Linked DNA regions of Homo sapiens. The protein of the gene in region 2 interacts with the protein of the main gene of each other region in a pairwise test. Each region holds a gene or a part of one and is shown on either strand. Other genes may lie near its edges.

Region 1 (8,470 bases), on a different chromosome or scaffold from region 2:
AGAAATGGGATTAAAGCCAGGCCTTTCTGACTCAAGGTTGTGTACTGAGTTCCTGTCCAATTCTGCTTTCTGCATGTGTATTCATACTCAGCAAAGTTTGATGCCTGCATGAAAAACAATATTTAAAGTCTCCACCATGTATTGGCCACTTAACTGCCTCTATCACTCCTCCTCAAGGATGATGAAGGGCTGGGGCAAGAAGAAGATTAGATAGTATACCTCACCAACCATTCACACTGTTTGGAAGCAGCTCAGGCAGATTGCTGTGATGACAGCTGGCAGCAGAGCATGGGGAAGAACATAGGCCAGTGTGGCTCATGTTCCACCACGTCACTCCACTCCACCCATCCAGTCCATGTCATTGATAGGCACAAATGAGCTCCTGCACCATGCCCATCAAATGCCCTTCTCTCTCCCAGATGCCTTGTGTTACTCCTTCAGTCTCTGCTTTTTCCTCTTCCCAGACAGGCGGGCAGACCCTTGTTTTCACTACTGCCAGTCAGCAGCTCAGAGGAATTGCCAGATTTTAGAGGCAGACTTGCAAATAATAACCAATACATAAAAGAACACCTACTTTGTTTCCATGCTTAAGGAACTGGGCAGAATGACACAGATTTCAGAAGTTCCTAAAAGCAGGAAAAGGATGTGGCCTTAGGGAAAGGGCCTTCCGCTCTCCATTTCTAGTGGTCCTTACAGTGAGTGTTGGAAAGATTAAATGAGACAGTAAATGTGCTTGTGCTGTCAAAAGGGAAACACACCCAGGAAACAAAAGGGATTCCTGTCCCTTGGAGTCTGAGCAATAGGTTGACCAGTGGGATAGGCAAGACCTGGGATTCAGATCTGAGGCCTGATCTGCACCCACTATGTGCCACTCATTAGGATAGTGAAGTCTCACATAGATAAAGGCACATGGCACTTCCAAACAGCGTTCTTAAGATGGCTTGGAGGATGTATCAGGGTAGGTGACTCAGGGAGATAAGGGGCTTGTGTACACCTTGTCTCTTGATGTAGCCTCCAGGCCAGTCCTGGTCCCATTCACCACTAGGTGGACTATCCCATACCAGTGAGATGGCAACACCAGTGTGTCTTGAAAACCAAGGAGGACTCACGTGGACAATTTAACGTGGAAGTCCCAAGGTGTCTGCTAATTACTCGGTTGTTACGGTTTCTAGAAATAAAGCATGATGGAAAACAGGCTGTCCAGGCTGAATGAGGAATAGGTGATGAGACTGTGCAGGCACTTAGTGGGAACCATCTCTCTGGGCAGCAAGGCTGAGGGAGAAGAATGCCTTCTGGGGGAATGACTATAGTGACCACAGATACACAGGTCACATAGCCTTGGGGAGGAGGGACTAAGACTTTCCAGGAGGAAATAAGGGTAGAGTCAAGCAAAGGCCAAGCATGCAGGCTCTGAGGGACAGTGTTTGGGAATCTAATGTGGTAGTGGTTAAGAGTGCAGACTCTGATACCTTGGCTCAAATTGCAGCTCCACTATGTAGGAACTGTGTGGCTGTGGCCCTTAAGCTGCCTATGGCTCTGTATCCTCCATCTGTAAATGCAGGTAACACTAGTAGTAGCTGCTTCGTTAGGATGTGATGAAGATTAATTGGGGCATTGTGTGTGGCATGCTAGCATAGTGTTAGCACTAGTAACTGCTCAATAAATGTACCATTGCTGTGAGGCTGGGAATGGGAGGGACATACACACACACACTCATCCCAGCTCCAACTTTCATCTCCACAGGCTCCTTCACAATCAGTGAAGAATTAGGTACTTTCTTGCCAAAGATAGCTGAAGCTCAAAGCCCGTACCATATGGACACTTGGGATATTTTGAGCAACCATGTTGGGATGCGGGCTAGTGGCAGCACCAACTGATAACGTGGCTATGGGAGCTATTTTAAGTGTTCACCTACTCTCCCCATCCCATGCTCTCCCCAAATGCCAATGGTTCTCAACATTTTTTGGATCATGGCCCCTTCAAGAAATGGATGGCTACCAAGGATCCTCTTGTCAGAACAGCACATGTCCCCATATCTGCCACATTCTGCACTTTATTTCAGAGGCTCTATGGACTTCAGAATTTGAACCCTATTCCAGATATTCAGACTCAGAGACCTAGAGGTATGTCTCTGCTGCCTGCCTCTTTCCTCTGAAACCATGCCTTAAAAACACCAAGGGGACATTGAAACCTGCTTTTCTGGATCACATTCTGAAAACTGCTGTTCAGAAGAGTTGCAGCTTCAACAGGGCCACAGGGATATAAAAGCAGCCCTGGAATGATGTCTTCCCTAAAAACAACAAAATCATCAATAATGAATAGGAAGAACCAATATTGTGAAAATGGCCATACTGCCCAAAGCAATTTATAGATTCAGTGCTATTCCCATTAAACTACCACTGACATTCTTCACAGAATTAGAAAAAACTATTTTAAAATTCATATAGAACCAAACAAGAGCTTGTAGAGCCAAGACAATCCTAAGCAAAAATAACAAAGCTAGAGGCATCATGCTACCCAACTTCAAACTATACTACAAGGCTACAGTAACCAAAACAGCATGGTATGCTACAAAAACAGGCACATAGACCAATGAAACAGAAAGAGAACTTAGAAATAAAACCACACATCTACAACCATCTGATCTTCCGAAAACCTGACAAAAACAAGCAATGGGGAAGGGATTCCCTATTTAATAAATGGTGCCAGGAGAACTGGCTAGCCATATGCACAAAATTGAAACTGGCCCCTTCCTTACACCTTACACAAAAATTAACACTAGATGAATTAAAGACTTAAACGTAAAACCAAAAACTATAAAAACCCTAGAAGAAAATCTAGGCAATAACATTCAGGACATAGGCATAGGAAAAGATTTTATGAAATTGCCAAAAGCAATTGCAACAAAAGCAAAAATTGACAAATGGGATCGAATTAAACTAATGAGCTTCTGCACAGCAAAAGAAACTATCATCAGAGTGAACAGACAACCTATAGAATGGGAGAAAATGTTTTCAATCTATCCATCTGACAAAGGTCTAATATCCAGAATCTACAAGGAACTTAAGCAAATTTACGAAACCCCCCACAAACAACCCCATTAAAAAGTGGGCAAAGAATGTGAATAGACACTTCTCAAAAGAAGACATACATGCAGCCAACAAATACATGAAAAAAGAGCTCAACATTACTGATCATTAGAGAAATGCAAATTAAAACCACAATGAGATACCATCTCATGCCAGTCAGAATGGCGATTATCAAAAAGTCAAGAAACAACAGATGCTGGCGAGGTTGCGAAGAAATAGCAACGTTTTTACGCTGTTGGTGGGAATGTAAATTAGTTCAACCATTGTGGAAGACAGTATAGCGATTCCTCAAAGATTTAGAACCAGAAATACCATTTGATCCACAATCCCATTACTGGGAATATACCCAAAGGAATATAAATAATTCTATTATAAAGATACATGCATGCATATGTTCAATGCCGCACTATTCACAATAGCAGACTTGGAATCAACCCAAATGCCCATCAATGATAGACTGGATAAAGAAAATGTGGTATATATACACCATGGAATACCATGCAGCCATAAAAAGGAACAGGATCATATCCTTTGCAGGGACAGGGATGGAGCTGGAGGCATTATCCTCAGCAAACTGGCAAAGGAACAGAAAACCAAACACCGCATGTTCTCACTTATAAATGGGAGCTGAACAGTGAGAACACATGGACACAGGGAGGGGAACAACACATATTGGGGCCAGTTGGGGGAGTGCGGGGTGGAGAGAGCATCAGGAAAAATAGCTAATGCATGCCGGGCTTAATACCTAGGTGAAGGAAGGGTTGATAGGTGCAGCAAACCAGCATGGCACATGTTTACCTATGTAACAAACCTGCATATCCTGCACATGTATCCCGGAACTTAAAATTTTTAAAAATCGTCAATAATAACAATGAAAGCAGCTAACGTTTTTGGGTACTTGCTATGTTCCAAACACCGAACTAAGCTCCTTACATGCATTATCTCATTTAATACTCCCCAAACTTCCATGATGGCAATAGTATCCTGGTCCCTGTTTTGCAGATGAGACACTAAGGCACACAGAGGTTAAATAACTTGCCCAAGATCACACAGCTAGTAAGTAGTAAGATTCAAACCCAGACCCAGACCGTGCTGTCAATCAGTATACTTTGTGACCACCTAGTGACATCACAGGAACCACACTTCCATCACCTATTTTAATGCCCTGAATGTTCATCCTAATAAATGCACATTAGACTTGAGTGGGTAAAAATTCTGAATGTACTGAGTCTTCTACCTTGGGCCAATCCTTCTCTTCAAAATGAACCTGCATGGGAATCAATGCTGAAAGTGGAAAGAGACCCCAGACAGGCCTGGCATCTGTATGCATAAGACAGAAAACCATCTCCCTGCACCCCTACTCCCAGTTAAAAGGCTGTGGGCATCTTTGAGCCAATGAATGGGCTGCTACAAAGAATTCTGGGAATCCCAACCCCTCACAGTTCTGCAACTCACAGTCCTGCAAAAGGTGGGTACTAGAATAGGGAGGTGGGCATATAGGCCAAATACTCTGTTCTGCCTTCCAGGAGGGAAAAAGCATGCTACCCAGGAAGCTCACAAGTGACATGTGGCCCATGGGCATACCAGGGCTAAAGTGAAGGATGGACTGCTCTGTGGAAGGAAGGAGTGAAAGTGAACAAGAGGCATAGGGCCACCTGCAGGAAGACTGAGAGGAGGGAAGGAGGAAGGCTGGCTTTGGCAGGGAGGGGAGGCAGGAGCAGAGGGAGCCAGAGGATCGGTTCAGGCAGTGAGAGAGGGCAGCCCCACTCTATTTCCCAGGCTGCTCTCTGGATGCAGGCAGGAAGGTTGAGTGTATTACACTGGCCCCACCTCCAGAGGCTCTCTCTGCAGCCGCTGGACTGGACACAAAGCGTGAGAGACAGAGACACCATCTCTGCTGATTTGTACCTAACTGGTTCCTGTTGCTGAGAGCCCACGTGTCACAGAAGCCAGGGCAGAGGCCCCACACTGCTGTCTGCATTTCCCAGGTAAGCAACCGTCTGTGTGTGAGCCAGGAGTGGAGAGCAAGGCCTGAAGGCGGTGAGCAGAGAAGAAAGTAGGAGGCGGCTGCCTAGGATGGACTTCAGTACAATCTGGAAAGAATGAAGGAAAGAAGAGGGGTATGGGCTGGGGTTGCAACAAGCCCTTAGGGTAGGCTTCTGCAGAGTGTTGATGGATGTATGAGGTTGGGGAGTCAAAGGCTGCATTTGGTCCACTCTTGGCTGGCAAGTGCAGAGGAAGTTCCAGCAAAGGACTGCTCTGACAGCCTCTGGGGACTAGCACATCTGGGGAGCAGAGAGGCCCGCCATACCATGGCATCAGTGTTCCTCTTTCAGACCAGGTATATTTGTGCAGACTTTGCCAGAAAATCCCTCCCTGTGCCCCTGCCTGCCTCCAGGTCTTCCTGGTGGTCGAGAGCATGCGTGTGGCAGCGACAGGAGGAAGAAAGCAGGACATATTCACTGGGGATATGGCTTCAGATGGAGGAGGGATACCTCATCTGAAAAGAGAGTCTCCTGACGGGCTCTGGAGAGGAGATTGGTTAGCTAGTGGAGGGCTGTGTGCCACCCTAAGGAGGCTCCCCTGTGGCCCAGAGGAAAAGAATGACACACAGACTGTGGAAAATGGGGTATTTGTGCTGGAGGTGGGGTGGGGAGCGGGTAAAGTCAGTGATCTGTGAACAGTGCCACAGAAACAGGCAGTATGTTGTCGTAAAGAGGGAAAGAGACCTAAGACATGTGTTTCATACAAATCCAGCATCCCTTTGCTGTCCCTGCTGGGGGACCTACAGCCCCGGATCAAGCCTGCTGGTCTGAGCAAGTTCTATGAGGTTGGCTAGTGGTATGTCCCCTCTATGAACTACACATTCACTCCCTAAGATCCACTATGCTGAAAATATGTCAGATCTGGGCTCCTGTCAAAAGGCATGCCAGCTACCCTCTGCCATGTGATGGGTGAGGGAAGCAGTGAGAGAAGAGGAGTGGTCCCTGGGCTTTAGGGCACAAAGAGACGTGAGATGCTGAATTCCAGTCACAACTGCAATGTGTCCTCCCTCCATCCATGGCTTCTGTATCCAGAGCAGAAAGTGAGGATTCCTCCATACTGCTCCCTCTTCATACACACAGGGTAACTGGGCTCATGATCAGGCAGAAACCAGGGAAGAACAGTTTAATGAGATGGGGATAGGGTTAACTGTACCAGCCAAATACAAAGATCACTCCTTTTATCCAGTCTGAGATGGCAGTGAAAGGTGGGCAGAGGTAGAGAGAAGGAGCTTTCAGAAGGTAAATACTCAGTGACTAATACTCTTGAGCACCACAGGCAGTGGCCTCTGCAACATGGGTCCTGGCTCTGATGGGCAGCCACTGGCCTCTCTCTTTGGCGGAGGGCAATCTGGGTCAATGAAAGCAGGGAGGAGCCCAGCAGTGAGGCCCTGTAGCCAAGGTTCCTTGGCCCAGAAAACACAAGGGGCTTTGATGCCTGCAGAAAGCCACGGCTTTTCACCCCAGGATGCTGCAGCTGCTCTTGGGCAGAGCCCAGCCCCAGAGCAGGCTTCAGTCTGAAGGCCACAGCTGGGAGGCAGGACCATTTGGGGCTTAATGGCCTTAAAATTAGAGAGAAACCCCACTGCTGCTGTCTATGAGCTGTGTGGCCTTGGGCAGGTAAGTAACCTCAATAAAGCTCAGTTTCCTGGTCTGTAAAATTGAAAGAATAATATAGTAATAATAGCATCTATCTTTTTTTTTTTTTTTGAGATGTAGTCTCGCTCTGTCACCCAGGCTGGAGTGCAGTGGCGCGATCTCAGCTCACTGCAAGCTCCGCCACCATGCCCAGCTAATTTTTTTGTATTTTTAGTAGAGACGGGGTTTCACCGTGTTAGCCAGAATGGTCTCAATCTCTTGACCTCATCATCCGTCTGCCTCGGCCTCCCAATAGCATCTATCTTAAAGTTTGCTGAGAGGAATAAATGAAATTATGTTTGTGAAGCACTCAGCATAGTGGCTGGCTCATAACGTGTGCCCAGAAAAATGAGAGTTTTAATACCCCCTCTGGGATTCTCAGAAGTTTCTCTCCAGACTAAAGCAGATTTAGCCCTCTGGTCAACAGTTGTCCCCCTGGAGAGGCCCTCAGTACCCTGCCTCTCTAGTAACTCCTTTAAAATCTGTCACTCATCCAATCCTTGTTAACCAATCCTCCAGCAGGCTTTCTCCATGTCTTCAAGCTAAAATAAAATAAGTTTGAAAATAAAACCCAAATGGCTCTCATGTCTCATGCATTATGTTTGAAATCCTACATCTGGCTTCTTGAGTCAGGAGATGTGTACCCCAGTGGACATCTGTGGTATGCCAGGGGATCAATATGGCACACTTGGGGGAAGATTAAACATTTAAACCCAGGTAACTTTAATACTATTTTCTATAAAACAAATGCGACTGGCAGGGCACAGTGGCTCATGCCTGTAATCCCAGCACTTCGGGAGGCCGAGGCAGGTGGATCACAAGGTCAGGAGTTCAAGACCAGCCTGGCCAAGATGGTGAAACCCTGTATCTACTAAAAATACAAAAATTAGCCGGGCATGGTGGTGGGCACCTGTAATCCCAGCTACTCAAGAGGCTGAGGCAGAGAATCACTTGAACCGGGAGGCAGAGGTTGCAGTGAGCCAAGATCGCGCCACTGCACTCCAGCCTGGGTGACAGAGCGAGACTCCGACTCAATTAAAAACAAAAACAAAAATGAGACATAAAATGTAAACTCTCCTGAATGTTTATGATGAAGCAAAATTTCAAAGACAGGTCAAGCTCTCAGTGGGCATCCTCTGCCCCCGGGTGCTTATGGGTAGCCTTCCTGGCAGTTAGGAGTTCCTCAGAAGTTACAAGGGCCTGAGAAGCCCCGCTTAATCAGTGAGGGGCAACTGGTGCCTTCCTGACTCACCCTCATTCTCCCAAGGGCTGCTCCTTATCTTTGGAAGAGGTGGCCTACACAGCCCAGGGCCTGAGAGGTAACCCTAGCTGACACCATCATGGGATGGCAGACTTCCATTCCTGGCAGGGACAGCAAAAGCCAGCCTGGTTTCCAGCTTCCTGAGTGGGGGACACTGTAAGAGTGTCTTAGGAGGACCACAGCTTGGTTCCTACCCTCTCATCGAGTTGTCCCCCATGCTGACAAAGGACACATTTGGTTAGTGGTTGGGGATGAGCACCCTAGACAGGACAAGGCACAGCTGGCACCCAGCAAATGCCCCACCCTGGCTATTCCTGACAGCATGGTCTCCTGGGGCTTATAGCAAGTGGGATCTCCAGAGGGAATAGGATGACTGGAATTTTCAGCAGAGCCAGGCCTCTGTCCTCAGTGAGGCTCAACAATATGCCTGACATGGAGAC
Region 2 (7,623 bases):
GGGTTCAAGTGACCTGCCATCTCAGCCTCCCCAGTAGCTGGGACTCCCCATTAGCATGTACCACTATGCCCTGCTATTGTTTTAAATTATTATTTGTAAAGATGGGGGTCTACCTATGTTGCCCAGGATGGTCTTGAACTCCTGGGCTCAAGCGATTCTCCCACCTCAGCCTCCTAAAGTGTTGGGATTATAGGCATAATTTGCTGTGCCCAGCTGAAATCCTGAGTTTTCAATTTTAGCTTTGTTCTGGCAAAAAAGAATATCCCAGCAGATGAATCCTTCTGACCTCCAGACTTAGTAGGCACTTAGCAAGTCTTAGTTCTAGTTTCCTCCCATCCTGAGGATGAGGGGATGAAAACATACCGGGCTATCTTCTGTCTGTGTTGTCCCATTTTATTCCTCTGATTTTTCTGCTCCAAATTGAGGGGCAACATACAGTATGATTGTCAGTTAAAAAAATTTAAACAGGAGATACAAAAGGGTTTTGTTATTAGTTTCCTTAGAGATCAAATTGATTTAACATAAAAATTCACCGTTTTGCAAGTGAACAACTCATTTGGCATTTAGTGCATTCACATTGTGTAACCACTACCTCTGTGTTGTTCCAGAACATTTTCATCATCCCAAAAGGAAACTATGTACCCATTAAGCAGTTACTGCCCCCTACCCCTACCCGCTAACCCTTGATAACTGCCAGTCTGCTTTTGGTGTCTGTGGATTTACCTATTCTGGATATTCATATAAATGGAATCTTTACATATCTGTGAGCTTTTATGTTGGGTGTGATTGTCTTTTAATTGCTTGTATGCCTTTGGAACAGTCTTAAAATCATTTTTTTTTTTTTTTTTTTTTTTTTCAGGGAGTAGTGTACTATGAATACTTGGACTACAAGGTGGTGTTATAGTACATGTAGGTTTATAGATGAAAATGAACTAGACTTCATTGTGACGGTTCTTAACCTCACAGTGAAGGTCACTAAACCTCACTAAAGGTCATAGAATCCTTTAGGAATCAGGGCTTCATTTCAACCCCCGGTTGCTTCAAGTCAGTGGATCTCAGGATAAGAACACCTGATTTGAAATATTTTCTTTCCTTGAAACACACAAGTTAGATGAATCAACATGTTTGTCTTTATGACATTATTTCTTCTTGGTCCTGCCTTTTTCTACATATCCTTACTACTTTTGACTAGACGACTAGCCATCCTTGTACCTCTTTGCATTTTATTTATTTTTTTGAGACAGGGTCGCGAGGCTGGAGTGCAGTGCTGCAATCATGGCTCACTGCAGCCTTGACTTCCTAAGCTCAAGCCATCCGCCCACCTCAGCCTCCTGGGTAGCTGGGACTACAGGCGCATACCACCACGCCTGGCAAATTTTTGTATTTTTTTTGGAGAGACGGGGTTTTACCTTGTTACCCAGGCTGGCATCTTATTCCTGTGCTCAAGTGATCCACCCACCTCAGCCTCCCAGAGTGCCAGGATTACAGGGGTAAGCCACTGGGTCCGGCCCATCTCTTTGCATTTTAATCACTGAGTTCAATTTAAAAGTGGAACAAGGCCAGGCACAGTGGCTCAGGTCTGTTAATCCCAGCACTTTGGGAGATTGAGTTGGGCGGGTCACCTGAGGTCGGGAGTTCGAGACCAGCCTGACCAACATGAAGAAACCCCGTCTCTACTAAAAATACAAAATTAGCCGGGCATGGTGGCACATGCCTGTAGTCCCAGCTACCTGGGAGGCTGAGGCAGGAGAATCGCTTGAACCTGGGAGGTGGAGGTTGCAGTGAGCCAAGACTGCACCATTGCACTGCAGCCTGGGCAACAAGAGCAAAACCCTGTCTCAAAAAAAAAAAAAAAAAGAAAAGAAAAGTGGAACAAAAACTTCTACCAATAGGACCAGTATTGGATTTGACGTTGTTTTATTTATAAAATGATTTGTCATTAAGTTGCTGTTTCTACCTGCAAAGTTTCTAGATTCTTAGGGGCAAGGGTTGATTGTATTTGGTTCTTGGTAATGTGGACTATGTCTTTCCTATTGGCAAATAATTTTTACTATTAACTCTACAATGTCATTCTGAACTGTTATACGTAAGGTTATAATTATAGGCCTGTTTCTATGGGATAGCCATATTCTGATGTGTAAACATAACTGAAATATGTTAAATACTTTTTTTAAACTTGTTTACATTGTGTTGGGTTAATTTAAAAAAAGGCTTGAGCAGTAAGACTAACAGAAGTTCACATGTACTCAAAATTAATCTTTACGTCCCTTTTCTGCCTGCCTTATGTTCCCCAGATTTCATTAGATACAGTGTATTTTGGGTTATTGATGTTAAGTGTTTTTTAAAAAATACATCTCTAAAGTAGTATATACACTGAGTATAAAATGTGAGACTTTTCCATTTAAAGTTGGAAAAAAATTGCAACCTCAGGTCAGCTTTGTAGCTGATAAACTAGGAATGAGGAAGATTCAGTTGTTGAGAGGGCAGATGTCAACTAACACATCAGCAGTATCGAGCAAACATATTGACATAGCTGTTGGGTGTTAAGTTTCACATAAGTCATATTATCTTATGTGGTGAGAGGATGTTGGGGACAGCTGTGCCAAAACCTGATATCAGTAGTAGAGCCTGAGGTTGAGAACCAGGGTGGTAAAGGTAGAGGTGTGAATGTAAATGTACAGTTGTCTCTGGAATGTCTGCAGTTGGTACTAGATGTTTTTAGGTACATCAGGTTTTTAGGGCGGTCATGTGAGCACTCACCATAGACTGCTTTTCTCACTGGGTAGACAATAATGTATCTAGAGAATAGAGCAGCACTACCTAATGCCCTGCTTTTGTTCTGCTATTGTATTGAATCAGTTGCCTTATGAAATTGCACTTCAATTTGTGTACATAGATACGTCCTTAAAAAGACACAGGGTTAGATAAGAACACCATATTAAATCTGTGCTGTAATGTGTATTCCTGAATCCTAGACTCATATATCCAGCTGCCTATTCAGCATCTTTCCTGGAGTGTTTAAAAACTCAAGCTCATTTCAAGCTCAGTAATGCTAAAACAGAACTGATCTCTCCTTCAAATCTATTTTTTCCCAGGCTCTCATCTTGGTTGATGGCAAATTTCTCATTCCATTGCTTGTGCCAAAAGCCTTGGCCCTCCTTGATTCTTCTTTCTCTTATGCCCCACTTCTATTTCTGAGAAGATTCTTTGGCTCTACCTTCAAAATATATCTGTACTCTGACCACTTCTCACTATTCTTGTCCAAACCATGATCTACCCTTGCCTTTGCCCTCCGTACAATCTGCTGTCATCAGAGGAGCTAATTCTTCTCAGAACCCTCTAGTGATCACCTGTTTTACTTGGATTAAAAGCCAGAGTCCCTCAAAAACTCTACAAGGCCATCTACATGCTCTGTATTGCACACTTCAGCTTCCCTCCATATACTTTTGACCCTTGAATAACACAGGTCTGAACTGTGCGCGTCCACTTATACGTGAGTTTTCTACCAGCTCTGCCACCCCTGAGACAGCAAGAATAATGCCTCTTCTTCCTCCTCCCCCTCCTCAGCCTACTCAAGGTGAAGATGATGATGATGAAGACCTTTATGATGAGCCACTTTGACTTAATGAGTTGGTAAATGTATTTTCTCTTCCTTATGATTTTCTTAATAACATTTTCTTTTCTCTAATGTATTACAAGAATACAGTGTATAATACATATACAAATATGTGTTCGACTGTTTATGCTATTAGTAAGGCTTCCGGTCAACAGTAGGCTATCAGTATTTTGGGGGGAGTTAAAAGTTATACATGGATTTTCTACTGTGTGGGAGATTGGTCCCCCTAATCTCCATGTTGTTCAAGGGCCAAATATAGTTTATCTCTGAACTAATCTGTTTTCCACCTTTTCCATTTCATTCCAGCCACTCTTGCCACCTTTTTTTTTTTTCCTATAAATAAGCCTCAAGCCTTTTACTTGCTGTTTGCTCTGCCTGGATTGCTCTCCACCTTCGCTTCTTTTCTCATGTATTGCCTTCTCAATGAGGTCCTCCATGACTGCCGTATCTAAAATTTCATCCCTGTCCATTATCCCTCCCCACAGCATTAATTTTCTTCATAACACTTCTAATATGCTTCATCATCTTGTTTATTATTTGTCTCTCTCTACTCTAGAATTTAAGCTTCCTGAGGGCCAGTAATTTTATGTTTTGTTCAAAGCTGTATCTTAGTATGTACAACAGTGCCTGCTACATACATACTAGGCACTCAGGTATTTTTATATCAATGAACGAATGAATATTTTTGGGAACTAGGGTCTGGGCAAACCTTTATCCTACTCCTCCTATGAATTTCTAGATTCTTTGCCTGCTTCCTAGCTCTCTATGTTTTTCAATAGTTGGGGCTCAACCCAGGAGAGCCAGTTTTACTTCTCACTGGTTGTCAGGAAGACTGAGGTAAGTAGTGGGTATGAAAGGGTCTTACAGGAAAGGGTATAGAGGCTTCAGTTTATCACCAGGCAGTCTATGGACATGAAAAGTCTAAAGTCAGGTTTATGTTTAATTTCTCTACCTCCCTACTTTCACTCATGGCAATATTTGTTTTTTCAAAAAAATCATTCTATGTGTTTGCTATAACTATCAAATGAGATTTTTACTTGAAATATTTTATTCAGTTGTCATTGGACCTGCTGCTTCCTAGTTGGCGTTTATCTTACTTCCTAAACAATAGCTGCATCTTTCTTAAGTTTAGGAGCTGAGATTTGGTTGGGGCTGTTGAAGGTATAGGGGGAAAAAAATCAAACTTAAGTAACAAGTTCACATTGAAACTATGTATACACATATATATGTATATATATATGTTTACACACATATGTATATATATATGTTTACACACACATATATGTATATATATTCACGTATACACACACACACACACACACACACACATTTTTTTTTTTTTTTTGAGACAGGATCTTGCTCTGTTGCCCATGCTGGAGTGCAGTGGTGCGATCACAGCTCACTGCAGCCTTGACCTCCTGGGCTTAAGCAGTCCTCCCACCTCAGCTTCCCTAGTAGCTGGGCGTACAGGTGTATACCACCATGCCCCGCCAATTTTAAAAATGATTTGTAGAGATGGGGTCTCTCTGTGTTGCCCAGGCTGGTTTCAGACTCCTGGACTCAAGTACTGGGACTGCAGTTGTGAGCCACCACCTGGCCTGAAACTGGAATTTTTATGCTGAAATACTCAGTTGCCCAATAGCAGTGGTATGAACAGCTTTCACTATAGGGAATATGTGAATCAGTAATGCCTCCCGGTGCTCTGAAGTTTTGGGGTGACGTGAAGTGCACATGCAGTGGTGTTCCCTGTTGAAAATCAATGACTTACGGACTGAACCAGAATCTCTTCTTTATCAAGTAGCAGGATGAAGTGGCATCATGAGGATTATAATTCTGATGGTTTCTGAGCAAAATTTGTCCCACTTTCAGAATTTTGACATGTCTGTAAAGACTTAGATGATTTTTATTGTTTTATTTTTTAATTAATTAACTAATTAACTTTTTTGAGGCAAGGTGGTCTCACTGTCTCCCAGGCTAGAGTGCAGTGGTGTGTGATCTTGGCTCACTTCAATCTCTGCCTCCTGGGCTCAAGCAATTCTCCTACCTCAGCCACCCAGGTAGATGGGACTACAGACGTGCACCACCACGCCTGGCTAATTTTGCATTTTTTGTAGAGATGAGGTTTCCCCTTGTTGCCCAGGCTGGTCTCAAACTCCTGGGTTCAAGCAGCCCGCCCGCCTCGGTCTCCCAAAGTGCTGGGATTACAGGTGTGAGCCACTGTGCCTGGTCTTACATGATTTTTAAAACATAGAACATGTATTGGTAACGTTTTCTTATATTAGTTGTCTGCAAAAATATTGTTATATTTAATCTATTATTTTCCCTTTTCTCATAACTTAATTGTGTTGAGAATCAATGTTTGAGGCAAATCCATTTGGATTCTAATTGTATTTGGGCCTCTTGCCAGAAATCCGTATAACGTGTCATATGGTGTCTGTCCACTCTAGAGTGCCAAGTGTAACTCTAGAAATATCTAAATATTTCCACAGTTTCTGGATGGGTCTGGATATGGTGGCTCAGTCCTGTAATCCCAGCACTGTGGGAGGTTGAGAAGAGGGGAGGATCGTTTCAGCCTAGGACTCTAAAACCAACCTGGGCAACTTGGCGAGACCTCGTCTCTATAAAAAATAAAAAAAATTAGCAGGACATGGTGGTGTTCCCATGTGGTCCCCACCTATGCAGGAGGCTGGGATGGGAGGAACACTTGCGCCCAGGCTGCAGCGGGCCATGATTGTGTCACTGCATTGCAGCCTGGGTGACAGAGCAAGACCATGTCTTAAAACTTGCATGGTATTAAATATGTCAGAAGGTATTTGTCCATTTGGTTTTACTTACACACCTTGTTTAAAAAAAAAAATAGCAAAGTGTAGGCGTATTACATTTTAAAATATTCTTTTCAATTTGTTTTGGTATTGATATTAAGAATTACGTATATAGATGGACATTTACAATTTGTCAGAGGTTTTTCTCAAGTAAATTATTAAATTAGTATTACTTTTTTCTCTGGAGAAACAAAACCGTTGCAAAATGTAATCTTCTATAATGATTTTTTTAAAAAAAGTTTCTACTGTTGAAATATGTGCCTGGTGTAATGAAAGGGAGGTTGTACAATAATCCAAACAAAATTAAATTAACTTCTGTGAAGGAAAAGTCATTTAGTTTTTGAGAGATTATATTCCTTTGAACTGGAATGATTTTAAAGTGATTTATATTACCAAGAAAATTACCATGTCAAAACGGAAAAGGAAATCCTTGCATTGGACACTGGTGATTTTGCCCATTTAAGACATCTTTGGGGTGACTTTTTAACTTGAGAGAAAACTCAGGGCATACAAACGATTGTGAAGAAAAAAATAGAAGAGGCTTCTATTCTCTAGTTCATTACTCCTTAGCTTTAAAAATTATTTCTTTCACAAGGATATTTTATTGATGACTTACCTGAAGGCACAAAACATTTGGTGTTTTTAAAAACACACCATCTGCTGGTCGCGGTGGCTCATGCCTGTAATCCCAGCACTTTGGGAGAGCGGGGCGGTCGGATCACTTGAGGTCAGGAGTTCAAGACCAGCCTGGCCAACATGGTGAAACCTCGTCTCTACTGAAAATACAAAAATTAGCTGGGTGTGGTGGCGGGCATCTGTAATCCCAGCTACTTGGGAGGCTGAGGCAGAAGAATCTCTTGGACCTGGGAGGCGGAGGTTGCAGTGAGCTGAGATCATGCCACCGCACTCCAGCCCGGGCAACAAAGTGAAACTCTGTCTCAAAATAAATAAATAAATAAAAACAAAAAAATAAAAACAGTATTGATGAAATAAGTTATAATGTCCAAATTTACATTTTTAACTTGCCCATTGACTTCCTTATAGGTTCATCTCCCTCTACCCCCTCTTTGGGCTTTTTGGGTGATTTGCATGACCAATATAAATAGAGTGGCAGGCAAGATAATGTCCACACCCCACCTCCCCATGCGTGCGTCCCAGTCCCCAGGATTTGTGAGTATGCCACCT
Region 3 (7,623 bases), on a different chromosome or scaffold from region 2:
ATTTCCCAGTGGGCCAGAGGCTGCAAGGCTCCTTTGTCACTGGGAGACCTGCATGCCTGTCAAGAAATTCTCCCCAAGGACACCACCCAGCCCCACCACCACCCCAGGGAGGTGAAGGTGCCTGACTCCTAGCAGCCCCAAGCTGTGCCCTCAAGGCACCTGCCAAGACAAAATATCTTTACAAGCTCATGCCTTAGACAAGCATTTATTGAGCATCTACTGTGTGCTTGCTCCAGTGCCAGGCACTGAGGCACCACGGTCTGTGCTCCCTTACAGAGAGTGCAGGGGAGAAAACAGGAAAATGACTACACAGCGTGAGAGAAGTTTGGTTTGGGGATGCATAGGGAGTTAGGAGAGTGCCTAGGAGGGGAACACAACACAGAACAGGGGTCCTGGGGCTTCCTGGAGGAGCTCCTGACTAGGTAAGACCTAAAGGCTGAGGGGCAGCCGGCCAGACCGAGGCCGTGGGGGAGGAGGGGAGGGAGTGTGCTTCACGCTGCGCGTAGCCCTGGAGTGCGGAGCAAGCAGGAGCTGAATGGTGCCTGGGTAGCAGAGTGTAGGGAAAGGGGAGGGGTGAAGAGAAGATGCAGGAGGGGTGGCAGCAAGAGTTAGTCACATGGTGCCTAGAAGCTGAATGAAGTGTGGCTTTCCTTCTCTCATCCTGCTGCTGGAGCTACTGCCACCATCTTGAATCCTGAGGATAAGGCCACAGCTGGGGATGGGAGAGGGTAAACTGGAAGGTGCCTGGGTCCTTGAGAACCAGGTGAGGTCGAGGGTGACAGTAAGCCATGAACAGATTTTAAGTAGAGCAAGGACACAATCAGGTTTGTGTGCAGAATGGGTTGGGGAGCCAGATAGAAGCAGGTGGCCAAAGTGGAGCCAGGAAGGATGAAGTCTGGCCTGAGCTAAGGCAAGTGGAAAGAAGTGGAAGGAGCTGGATGGACTTGCCCGGCTTGAAAATGGGTTTGGGCGCTGCCAGTGCCCTACTCACGTGCACATTGAGTTGTCCGATCTCCATCTCCAGCTGTCGCACTTTGGCCTCCCGCTCAGCTACCATGGCCTGCAGCTGGGCGACTAGGCTGTTGCTCCGCTGAGCCTCGCTGTTCAGTTGCTGGTCCAGGTGGTGCTGGGACACTCGCGTTTTCTCCTCCTGCAGACTCAGGCTGCCTAGGATCTCCTGTAGCTGCTTCAGCTGGTCCTGGGGGGCCAGGCAGGAGGGCAGGTGGAGTCAGTCATGGCCCTTTGGGCCGGGGAGGACAAGAACAGACTGCCTCCCTCACCCCAAAGCAGGCTGCAGGAACCTAACAGTGGGATCCTGTTCCCTCGAGAGGCAGGAACACCTTCCTTGCCTGCCATCAGGGGATGTTGAATCAGGCAGGTGGGGACCATGTTCTTTTCCTGTCCTCAACTTCCTTCTCTGAGTTTGGGGCCAAGAAGATCCAAGGGGCTCTCAGACAACAGAAAGTAGATCAGATGGTGACTCCTCACCCGGTGGGGGAGATATTTAGCTAAAAGAAAAGCCTGATCCTGCTTGGCTGGGAGACTGCCCTTGGAGGCAGTACCTGGACCCCTGCCAGGGATCCATTAGCACCTGACTGAAGCCTCATCCCAAGGAAAAGCCCTCAAGGAGACTCCTGGGCAAAGGCTTCCTGCCTAGGGCCAACAGAAAGGACAATGTCAGTGATTTGGAACAGGTGGGGGCTGTTGTCTTCACCTCAGAGTGGAGGAAACTGAGGCCCAGAGAGTCCAAGGGCATATTGCTGGTGAATAGCATGACTGGGACTAGTTTGCAGCTCTCATCATGCCACTTTCAATGACAAAGAATGGTGACATGCAGGGACCTCAGAGGACATCCAGCCCTGCGACTTATTTTTAAAACTGGCTGCTGAGCCTCAGAGGGGATGCGACTGGCCTATGGTCACACAGTGAGATACTGACAGAGGCAGGCCTAGATTTCTGGTCTTCTGTGCCCCGCTCACCACCCTATCATGTAAAGTGATCATGAACTAAGGTAGGTGCCTGAGCCAGCACCCCCCAAACACCCCAGCCAAGCCAGACATGATCACCCGCCCCGGGCCTGCAGGCACAACTTGGAATCTGACACCAAACTTTGGTGCCTCGGGTCCCACAGAGAAAAGTCCAAGCTGTAGGGTTAGGAAAGCAGTATGGCCTTACTAATCAAGGAAGTTTTTGTTTTTGTTGTTGTTGTTGTTTTATACATAAGTTGTAGGGTACATGTGCACAACGTGCAGGTTTGATACATAGGTATACATATGCCATGTTGGTTTGCTGCACCCATCAACTCATCATTTACATTAGGTATTTCTCCTAATGCTATCCCTCCCCCAGCCCCCCACCCACCGACAGGCCCTGGTGTGTGATGTTCCCCGCCCTGTGTCCAAGTGATCTCATTGTTCAATTCCCACCTATGAGTGAGAACATGCGGTGTTTGGTTTTCTGTCCTTGTGATAGTTTGCTGAGAATGATGGTTTCCAGCTTCATCCATATCCCTGCAAAGGACATGAACTCATCCTTTTTTATGGCTGCATATTATTCCATGGTGTACATGTGCCACATTTTCTTAATCCAGTCTATTACTGATGGACATTTGGGTTGGTTCCAAGTCTTTGCTATTGTGGATAGTGCCGCAGTAAACATACGTGTGCATGCGTCTTTATAGTAGCATGATTTATAATCCTTTGGGTATATACCCAGTAATGGGATTGCTGGATCAAATGGTATTTCTAGTTCTAGATCCTTGAGGAATCGCCACACTGTCTTCCACAATGGTTGAACTAATTCACAGTCCCACCAACAGTGTAAAAGCATTCCTATTTCTCCACATCCTCTCCAGCACCTGTTGTTTCCTGACTTTTTAATGATTGCCCTTCTAACTGGTGTGAGATGGTATCTCATTGTGGTTTTGATTTGCATTTCTCTGATGGCCAGTGATGATGAGCATTTTTTCAAGTGTCTGTTGGCTGCACAGATGTCTTCTTTTGAGAAGCGTCTGTTCATATCCTTCGCCCACTTTTTGATGGGGTTGTTTTTTTCTTGTAAATTTGTTTGAGTTCTTTGTAGATTCTGGATATTAGCCCTTTGTCAGATGGGTAGATTGCAAAAATTTTATCCCATTCTTTAGGTTGCCTGTTCACTCTGATGGTAGTTTCTTTTGCCATGCAGAAGCTCTTTAGTTTAATTAGATCCCATTTGTCTATTTTGGCTTTTGCTGCCATTGCTTTTGGTGTTTTAGTCATGAAGTCCTTGCCCATGCCTATGTCCTGAATGGTATTTCCTAGCTTTTCTTCTAGGGTTTTTATGGTCTTAGGTCTAACATTTAAATCTTTAATCCATCTTGAATTAATTTTTGTATAAGGTGTAAGGAAGGGATCCAGTTTCAGCTTTCTACATATGGCTAGCCAGTTTTCCCAGCACCACTTATTAAATAGGGAATCCTTCCCCCATTTCTTGTTTTTGTCAGGTTTGTCAAAGATCAGATGGTTGTAGATGTGTGGTGTTATTTCTGAGGCCTCTGTTCTGTTCCATTGGTCTATATATCTGTTTTGGTACCAGTACCATGCTGTTTTGGTTACTGTAGCCTTGTAGTATAGTTTGAAGTCAGGTACTATGATCCCTCCAGCTTTGTTCTTTTTGCTTAGGATTGTCTTGGCAATGTGGGCTCTTTTTTGATTCCATATGAACTTTAAAGTAGTTTTTTCCAATTCTGTGAAGAAAGTCATTGGTAGCTTGATGGGGATGGCACTGAATCTATAAATTACTTTGGGCAGTATGGCCATTTTCATGATATTGACTCTTCCTACCCATGAGCATGGAATATTCTTCCATTTGTTTGTGTCCTCTTTTATTTCATTGAGCAGTGGTTTGTAGTTCTTCTTGAAGAGGTTCTTCACATCCCTTTTAAGTTGGATTCCTAGGTATTTTATTCTCTTTGAAGCAGTTGTGAATGGGAGTTCACTCATGATTTGACTCTCTGTTTGTCTGTTACTGGTGTATAGGAATGCTTGGGATTTTTGCACATTGATTTTGTATCCTGAGACTCCTGAAGTTGCTTATCAGCTTAAGGAGATTTTGGGCTGAGATGATGGGGTTTTCTAAATATACAATCATGTCATCTGCAAACAGGAACAATTTGACTTCCTCATTTCCTATTTGAATACCCTTTATTTCTTTCTCTTGCCTGATCGCCCTGGCCAGAACTTCCAACACTATGTTGAATAGGAGTGGTGAGAGAGGGCATCCTTGTCCTGTGCTGGTTTTCAAAGGGAATGCTTCCAGTTTTTGCCCATTCAGTATGATATTGGCTGTGGGTTTGTCATAAATAGCTCTTATTATTTTGAGATACGTTTAATCCAGGAAGTTTTTATAGTCAGATAAACCTGCTTTGAACTCAGTTGTATGGTCTTAGATGAGTTATCTAATGAATTTGAGTCTTAGTTTCCCCATCTGTGAAGTGGGATTAAAATATATGATCCTAGAAGTTATCTTAGGGACTAAGCATTATAACATGCCCAGAAGAGGAAGGGTTCTGTGCCACTGCAGAGATAAGAACTGGTACTGGCTCCTCTTGTCCCTTTCATTCCTTGCTGAAAAATAACCCAGGGTATAATCCCACCTCCTTCCCCCAATACATTTCTGTCTCTTTTGGGGTCCATAGGCCCAGTGCCTTGTGCCTGGTGCTGCTCCATCACAGCCCCCTACCTGCCCTCAGGCAGCCTCCCTGAGCTGCTCCTGTCCCTGGGGCAGGGCTTTGGTACTGGGGGCCATCTGGAGGCAACGGGCTTTGGGGTTACACAGGTGGCATTGAGGGGTGAGTGAGGGCTCACTCTGGCCATGGCTGGGGCCCATCCTTTGAGGAACCACCCCTGGCTCTCGCCCTGCCTGAGTGGTGGGGCCATACCATGAGGGCGTCGATGAGCTCGTCATCATGCCGGCCCTTCTCCACCAGGGTTCCCATCTGACTCTTGAGGGTCTTCATCTCACTTGACAGCAGCTTGTTCCGAGACCTCATGCCCTCGAACTTCTTTTTTAGCTCTTCAAGCTCTCTCTGGAGGACATCCCGTTCACTGGCAAGTTTCTGTAATTAGAAAGTGAGGGCATGGGCAGCAGGGCTGTGTGGGACCTTGGCCACATCTGCTCCCTGGCTCCTACTCAATGGCAAGGCCCGGGGCTGGGGGTGGGGGTGCTTGTTGAATGCCACAGAGCAAGTCACTAGAGCCAGGGCCCTGACTCCCAGCCCAGGCCTCTCAGGGATATCAGGTGGCCAGCAGCCTCCCACCCTTCCCCTAGCACATGACAGCACTAACCCATGACAGCACTCCTAACCTCAGCCTGAGACACAGACTTCCTAGCACATGAGAGGAAAGCCGCCAGCCAACTGCGTGTGTCCTCCAGAGAGCACAGCCAGTCCTACCCCTAAGCCCCTCCCCAAGCAGGGGAAAAGAGAAAAGCCATACTTTAGAAAAAGAGTGCTGGGCTAGGTTCCAACTGCAGCACCTTGCACCACCAGGAGCTAGAATGAGAAAGGAGGGTCTTTTCTCCCACTTCCTCCATGATTATTTGGCACAACCCCTGACAGCACCTTGCTTTGTCAGCTACCAACTGGAAACTCACATGCAGCACACATCTTCGGAGTCTCTCATTCAATCATCCCTTCATTCTCGAGGGTTTCCTGAGGGCCTACTATGGGTTTCCTGAGGTTTCCTACTATGGTTTCCTGAGGGCCTACTATGGGCTTAGTATTGTTATAGATGCTGGGGGACAGCAAAAAGCAAAACAGTCCTTGTCCTCAAGGAGCTGATAATCCTAATGGAGGAGACAGATAATGTCAAATAGTGACAAATGCTAATTTGAAAGTAGGAAACAGGAATAGCGAGAAGGATATGGTCAGGTAAGGCCTTTCTGAAAAGGTGGCATCTGAGCAGAGACTGAAGGAGATGAAGGGAAGAGCAAAGGCCCTGGGGTAGAAGGTGTGTGGCTGGAGCACAGTGAGTGAAGGGGCAGAGGTTAGATTAGGCAAACCCATAAAGACAAGATGGAGACATTGGGGAGGAGCTTGGGCAGTGGGTGACATCACCTGCTTGATCCTGAGGGTGAATTGTTGCTGGAAAAGTATTTTCATATCCTTGATGAAGTGAATTATAGAAATGCAAAACAAGTAAAACATGAATCTATAGGACACAAGCCCTTTGCAGGGAGGCAGCCATTACTCACCTGTTGCTCTCCTGCCTACACACTCCAGGCTCTTATGGGTGCCTGCCAGAGGGAATGCATGCAGGAAGCTGTTTCCTTCCACCCGCTATTGCAGCTTATGGTCAGCCCAACTGTTCAACATAATCTGTTCTGCACTAACATGTAAGTTCAAGCTAGGTGCATTTCAAACCCAGCATTTCCAAATCTCAACTCCCTTTCTCTTCTTGAACCCACCCTGTCTCCCTTACCCACCCACTATACTCCCTAGAAGTCCTTTATAACTCTTCCTCCTCATCTCTCTTCCAAGTCCAATCAGTCCTTGAGCCCTAGAAAGTCTGTCCTCACTGTCCCAGGTGTCTGGCCCTTCCATGACAGTCCACTATCTTGGCAAAGATCTTTGGTCATGTCTCCAGGATTACTATTCTGCCTTCCATTCCTCTTCCAACCCATTCCTCCTCTTGCTCCAACCATGTGACCTTTCCAAAATGCACAGCTGACCACCTCCCTCCACAAATTAAAACCCTGTCGTGGGCTCGGCGAATGGCTCACACCTGTAATCCCAGCACTTTGTGAGGCCGAGGCAGGTGGATCACCTGACGTTAGGAATTTGAGACCAGCCTGACCAACACAGTGAAACCCTGTCTCTACTAAATATATAAAAATTAGCCGGGCATGGTGGCAGGTGCCTGTAATCCCAGCTACTTGGGAGGCTGAGGCAGGAGAATCACTTGAACCCCGGAGGCGGAGGTTGCAGTAAGCCAAGATCACACCATTGCACTCCAGCCTGGGCAACAGAGCGAGACTCTATCTAAAAAAAAACAAAAACCGTTTGGTGGTTCTCCACAGCCTTCAAGATACAGGCCAAAAGTCCTGGCTGGCATACAAAGCCCAGCAGGCCCTGTCCACTTCTGTGGTCTCACTGTTTCCCTCCTCACAGCTGATGGTCTACAGCGCTGGGAGGTGCAATGTGGTCATGGTTACAGCATTCCTAACACAGGGCCTAACCCAGCGTTGGTGCTCACAGGCAAAAGTCTCCAGATGAAAAGGCAAGTCCTCACTGTTAGGTAGCTCACTGCCAGGGCCACTACGTGGGCCTGTTGTATGGCCTGCCTGCACCTCTTCATGCTGCTTCTGTTACCTTCTTTAAAGTGGCCCCTACTCCCTACTCTCATTGCAAGTTTGGGGAGGCTAACTCATCCCCTCAAACCTTGGGGCAGGTGTCTGAAGCTTGACCAATCAAAACACCCTGTACTCTTGGCTACAGTGATGGGCTCAAGGATGGTCACATAACCCAGGCTAGACCAAAGACACTCAATTCTGGGACTTTGTTGGAACTATTGGGAAAGAGAAACCCTTTGTCTGTAGAGGCTGCATTGGAGGAGAGAAGCTGGGACTACCCAGGGTCCTTGTGGA

The links.
Region 1: the proteins of ZRANB1 (region 2) and ZNF648 interact in binary tests that used the Homo sapiens proteins (3 or more experiments, as listed by UniProt).
Region 3: the proteins of ZRANB1 (region 2) and CCDC13 interact in binary tests that used the Homo sapiens proteins (3 or more experiments, as listed by UniProt).

What each region holds. Positions count from the first base shown.
Region 1 is NC_000001.11:182,058,175-182,066,644, reverse strand, and holds the start of ZNF648 (zinc finger protein 648), read left to right. Parts: upstream 1-4,932; 5' UTR 4,933-5,077; intron 5,078-8,470. UniProt on the Homo sapiens protein: May be involved in transcriptional regulation.
Region 2 is NC_000010.11:124,944,579-124,952,201, forward strand, and holds part of ZRANB1 (ubiquitin thioesterase ZRANB1), read left to right. Parts: intron 1-7,623. UniProt on the Homo sapiens protein: Ubiquitin thioesterase, which specifically hydrolyzes 'Lys-29'-linked and 'Lys-33'-linked diubiquitin. Also cleaves 'Lys-63'-linked chains, but with 40-fold less efficiency compared to 'Lys-29'-linked ones.
Region 3 is NC_000003.12:42,734,716-42,742,338, forward strand, and holds part of CCDC13 (coiled-coil domain-containing protein 13), read right to left. Parts: intron 6,373-7,623; exon of another isoform or gene 6,260-6,372; intron 5,096-6,259; coding exon 4,919-5,095; intron 1,199-4,918; coding exon 992-1,198; intron 713-991; coding exon of another isoform or gene 674-712; exon of another isoform or gene 190-673; intron 1-189. UniProt on the Homo sapiens protein: Required for primary cilia formation and promotes the localization of the ciliopathy protein BBS4 to both centriolar satellites and cilia.